Regions from separate parts of the Homo sapiens genome. Here region 1 is linked to region 2. Evidence: fine-mapped expression QTL. Tissue or cell type: caudate. Region 2 holds a variant in brackets; the other region holds the start of a gene. All regions are shown on one strand. Distances are between the middles of the regions.

What was found. PIP is the estimated chance that this variant, and not a neighbour inherited with it, causes the effect.
Region 1: ATP1A4 starts here. The variant in region 2 is fine-mapped to the expression of ATP1A4 in caudate (GTEx, PIP above 0.99). The same link has a PIP of 0.9 or more in neural progenitor cells, prefrontal cortex and skeletal muscle.

Annotation. Positions count from the first base shown.
Region 1 is chr1:160,150,332-160,153,013 of GRCh38, forward strand. ATP1A4 (ATPase Na+/K+ transporting subunit alpha 4) reads left to right here and starts at 1,272. Exons shown (of 22, transcript NM_144699.4): 1 at 1,272-1,856. The coding sequence starts at 1,710.
Region 2 is chr1:160,127,433-160,130,114 of GRCh38, forward strand. It overlaps ATP1A2 (ATPase Na+/K+ transporting subunit alpha 2), which reads left to right. Exons shown (of 23, transcript NM_000702.4): 8 at 120-388; 9 at 1,220-1,418; 10 at 1,548-1,657; 11 at 1,834-1,968; 12 at 2,670-2,682. Among named protein-coding and RNA genes, the nearest start is that of ATP1A2, 13 kb to the left of the region's middle. The variant G/A (reference allele first, on the strand shown) is at 1,321.

The DNA of each region.
Region 1 (2,682 bases), 23 kb after region 2:
GAAAAATATATATAATGGTTGACAGAAAAGTATAGATGCTTCAGATTATTCTTGGAAGGAGGTAGAATCCTATGGACATGCAAAACATATATACAGTTAATATAGTCAAAGCACTTACTGAGACACCAGAGAAGGTCAATGGAAGAGGTAAGTACATCATTTTAAAATGAGAAAATGCAACGCTATCACATGGAAAAGCATATTTTTACCCTCACTGAGAAGAGCTGCATATTAATCCACAAATAAAACTACTACTGAATTCAAGCTACCTATTGAGCACATACTATATATGTCACATAGTGCTTTTTGTAGAGCACCTCACTTAAGGTAGAAGGTATCCTCTTTTAAAAATAAGAAAAGAGAGGTACAGAGGTTAGGTAACTTGCTCAAAGCCACACAGCTGACAAGTGGAGGAGTTGGGATTGAAATCCAGGACTGGTTCCAGAGCCCAAGATCTGATCTATTCTGCTAGCTGATCTCCTAAAATTAAAAGATCAAACCCAATGTTAGTGGAAAAGTGTGCCTTGCTAAAAAACACACACAGAGTACCTGCTTTTTTTTTTTTTTTGAGATGGAGTCTCAAAAACAGACGGGAGAATATTAGTCCAAACTGCAACTGCACCATTTTGTAAGCTCCCTGCTATGGTTTTTTGTTTGTTTGTTTGTTTGTTTGTTTGTTTGTTTGTTTGTCTGAGATGGAGTCACTCTGTCACCGAGGCTGGAGTGCAGTGATGCAATCTCAATTCACTGCAACCTCTGCCTTCTGGATTCAGATGTTTCTCCTGCCTCAGCCTCCCGAGCAGCTGGGATTACAGGTGCCCACCACCACACCTGGCTAAATTTTGTATTTTTAGTAGAGATGGGGTTTCACCATACTGGCCACGAAGGTCTCGATCTCAGCCTCCCAAAGTGCTGGGATTACAGGCATGAGCCACCGCGCCCGGCCGAATACCCGCTTTATTTTTGAGTCATCTATTTGGCATACCTCTAAGCCTCCAAAGTCTGCAGGACCACACAAGAACTTTGTTCTAGTTCTGCCCTCAGACTGAAACTCTTTCTGTAGCAGGGCCTGCTCCAATCGTCCTCAAACCCAAAGACTGAGACTTCTAGGTTCTTGGTTAAAACCTTCATGAGGCCTTTGCGACAGCAGACCTGGACCATCGCCAAGGCAAGACTTCTGGATTCTTGGTTAGAACTTTCAGGAGGCCTTTGTGATGCCAGACCTGGGTCATTGCCCCAGCAACCACAGGGCCTGGGACTGGGGGGTTCCCAGATCCTTGAAGCTCACTCCGCCTCCTCACTCTCACTGCATTTCCCACCTTCCTGTGGGCCTTGCGGCATCTTCATCACTGAGGCACCTGGTTACGCTTCACCTCTTGTTTCCTGCCCTCACTGCATTCCCTCACCTCTACCTTTTTATCCTTCCACCCTAGGCTTCTCTCCTCCCTCTTCCCTCACTCCTGACTCTTCCTCTTCCCAGCGGACGGCTGGAGGACCGCTCAGTCTCTCCTCTCTCACTTCCCTTCCTCTCTCTCACCTTCACCACCCAACACCTCCCTCCCTGCCTCTTTCTTTCTGCTCCCTCATTCTCTCCCCACCACTCTCTTCTCGTGGCCCCCTTGCCCGCGCGCCCTCTTCCCTTCCCCTTGCCTCACTCTCTCAGCTTTCTTCCCACAGTTGAGCTCGGGCAGCTCTTTCTGGGGATAGCTATGGGGCTTTGGGGGAAGAAAGGGACAGTGGCTCCCCATGACCAGAGTCCAAGACGAAGACCTAAAAAAGGGCTTATCAAGAAAAAAATGGTGAAGAGGGAAAAACAGAAGCGCAATATGGAGGAACTGAAGAAGGAAGTGGTCATGGTGAGGCCACCCAAAGTGGGCGCTGACAGCTGCCCTCTGAAAACACTCCTCCACCTATCTTTAACATCTTACCTTGAGAATGAAACACACAGGCCAGAGCCACATCTCTTCTCTGTTAGGCTTTGGAGGGAAGGAGAGGGTTAAAAAAAAAAAAAAAGATACACACAGAGAGACAGGGCAGCTCAACAGCAAGCACAGGTATATTGCAGACACCTGTGGAAGTGGGGGATCAGCTTAATTCCACAGTCCACTGCCACTTACAGGCTGGGTACTTATAGGGATGGATGGGAGGAGTCTGGGCTGTATGGCCTGCTGCCTGGCAGGATATCGATAAGATGTTCTCATGATGAGGTGATTTTTGGCCCTTGTTTCCACAGAATATAATCATGGTATTCCCTGGACCTTTGCCCAGCAGGATGTGATAGGGATGTTTCTTTAGTGGGGTCTTTGTCTTTAATTGGGCCTTCGTCTGCCCTGTGGTCAGGTGGTTAGGCAGGCTGTTTCTCTGGCCCGAACCCCCGTGAAATGTTTCACTTTGACCAAGGCCTGTAAAATAGTGGGGAGCTAGGCCGGGCGTGGTGGCTCACACCTGTAATCCCAGCACTTTGGGAGGCTGAGGCAGGCAGATCACCTGAGGTCAGGAGTTTGAGACAAGCCTGGCCAACATGGTGAAACCCCGCCTCTAAAAATACAAAAATTAGCTGGTCCTGGTGATGGGCCCCTGTAATCCCAGCTGCTTGGGAGGCTGAGGCAGGAGAAACACCTGTTGGGAGGCAGAGGTTGCAGTGAGTCGAAATCGCACCACTGTACACCAGCCTGGGCAACA
Region 2 (2,682 bases):
CCAGATCTGCGGCTTTGGCTCACCTATCCTGTGATGATTTTCCTTGCTCAGGAAATAGGATGGGACTGCAGTCCCTGGGAGCCACAAGGCACCCAACCTGATGCCCCACCATGTTGCAGGCACTGCCAGGGGCATTGTGATTGCCACAGGAGACCGGACGGTGATGGGCCGCATAGCTACTCTCGCCTCAGGCCTGGAGGTTGGGCGGACACCCATAGCAATGGAGATTGAACACTTCATCCAGCTGATCACAGGGGTCGCTGTATTCCTGGGGGTCTCCTTCTTCGTGCTCTCCCTCATCCTGGGCTACAGCTGGCTGGAGGCAGTCATCTTCCTCATCGGCATCATAGTGGCCAACGTGCCTGAGGGGCTTCTGGCCACTGTCACTGTGAGTGGGTCAGGCTGAGGTGCCACCAGGGGAGGGTCTCACTACTCTTTCCTCAGAGTGATAGAGGCACAGTTGCTTGTAGCTTCTCACTACTTTTTCCCCCTAGAGTCACTTATTGGATGCGATACTCAGAGATCACTTAATACATGGCTTAGGGTATGAGTTGAGAAATCTCAGGTGGGGCTATTCTTAGGCACTCAGTTTCTCTTTTGGAGCTTGTCACGGCTGCCTTTTCTCACGATCTGCCAGCAGTCTGGGTCTCATTCCGTCCAAGTCTCCTGTAGAGGCTGTCTCAAAGGTCACCAGTCACTAACTAGCAAATCCAGGGACCTTTTCTCAGCTCTCCTCCCTAACTCTGCTGCTGAAACAGATACTGCTGTCCACCCTCCTACCATTCTCTCTTTTGTCGATTGCTGTGATGTGTCACTATCCTGGTTCGCCTCTCCTCTGTCCCTTCCTGCTCCCCCTACACTGATTCTCAGGCCTCAGCTGTCTGTTCTTCCTACACCCTGAGCAAGAGCCAATCTCCTCCCAGTTTGCAGTGTCCCTTCTGTGTTGATGACTCAGACATCCCTATGCTCAGCTCTGCTCTGGCCCTCTCTGGAGCTCTAGTCAAACGTCTTAAACCCCCTAATGGGCATTTCATCTTAACAGATACTCATGATCTCAACACATCTAAAATTGAACATTCATTATTTACAGCTAAGTCCCACCCATTCAAGTTAGTGGAGTAGAATCAGGGGAGGAGGAATGGAGCCACGGTCTAGGGTAAGGTTATGGCCATCTCCGGCTTCAGCCTTAACCTTTTTTATTCTCCTCTTTCTCTACCAGGTGTGCCTGACCCTGACAGCCAAGCGCATGGCACGGAAGAACTGCCTGGTGAAGAACCTGGAGGCGGTGGAGACGCTGGGCTCCACGTCCACCATCTGCTC[G/A]GACAAGACGGGCACCCTCACCCAGAACCGCATGACCGTCGCCCACATGTGGTTCGACAACCAAATCCATGAGGCTGACACCACCGAAGATCAGTCTGGTGATTGGGTGCTCCAGAGGGGGTGGATAGGATTAGAGGAGGCTGAGGGCAGTGGCGTGGTGGGGTGAGTGGTTGAGATAAAGGCTCTAAAGGGAGCCACGCTCCTGGTTCCCCCTCATTTCCTCCCAGGGGCCACTTTTGACAAACGATCCCCTACGTGGACGGCCCTGTCTCGAATTGCTGGTCTCTGCAACCGCGCCGTCTTCAAGGCAGGACAGGAGAACATCTCCGTGTCTAAGGTAGGGGGTCAGGACACACACCAGGTATGTTTTGGGGGTGTCTCCAAAGCCTCTTGCTGGCCCCAGCTTTCCTTCTCACATGATGTGGCTGCCTTGGGGGTTTCAGTGCCGCCTTCACCTGATCCTCCACTCCCTTCCCTCCCATGCTGACACTGAATTCTTGTCTCTTCTGGCAGCGGGACACAGCTGGTGATGCCTCTGAGTCAGCTCTGCTCAAGTGCATTGAGCTCTCCTGTGGCTCAGTGAGGAAAATGAGAGACAGAAACCCCAAGGTGGCAGAGATTCCTTTCAACTCTACCAACAAGTACCAGGTCTGCTTGGGTTGCCAGGACAGAGGAAGAGAGAGGGATATAAATGGGTGAGGGTGGACAAAGCCAAGGGGAATCATCACTAGCAGGAGTGGGGGTGTCTGAGGGTCATGTTCCCTCCCCCTGCTAAGTCCCCCAGGACAGCTCATATGACTGCATGTCTGATTGCAACTAGCCCCAGCTCCCAAACCTTACTCCATCCCTTACTACAATCTGTCACTCTCTCAACTCTTCTTCCCATAGCTCCGCATCCTCTGGCCTAGCCTTCCAACTCTTCTACCCCAGTCAGTGAAACCATAATTCTGTAATTCCTTTATGGTGCCCCTTAGCCTTTAGGCACCTGTTAAATGCCAAGAATGCAATCTCAGCATTCCTTATTATCCATAGAGGTAAAGCCCCCTGAGGCCAGGTGGTGGTGGGGATGCTGAGGAGGGAGCCGTTCAGCCCCTAGCACAGTGCCTGTCTTAACCTGACCTCAATAAATATTTGTTGAATGAAAGACTGTCCTACGGAGGTGGCTCTCAGGTTACAAGTGTTGGAACTGTGAGGTCTAAACACCCCCCTGCACAAGGAGATTCTCTTTGTTGACAATCTTTGATGGGTTGGGGCTACTTTTCTAAGGTGGTTTCCTTACCAGCTGCTGCTCTATGCCGCGCTACCAAGACAAGTATGGCCCTCTCTGTAACTACCTGTTGTCTCTCCAGCTGTCTATCCACG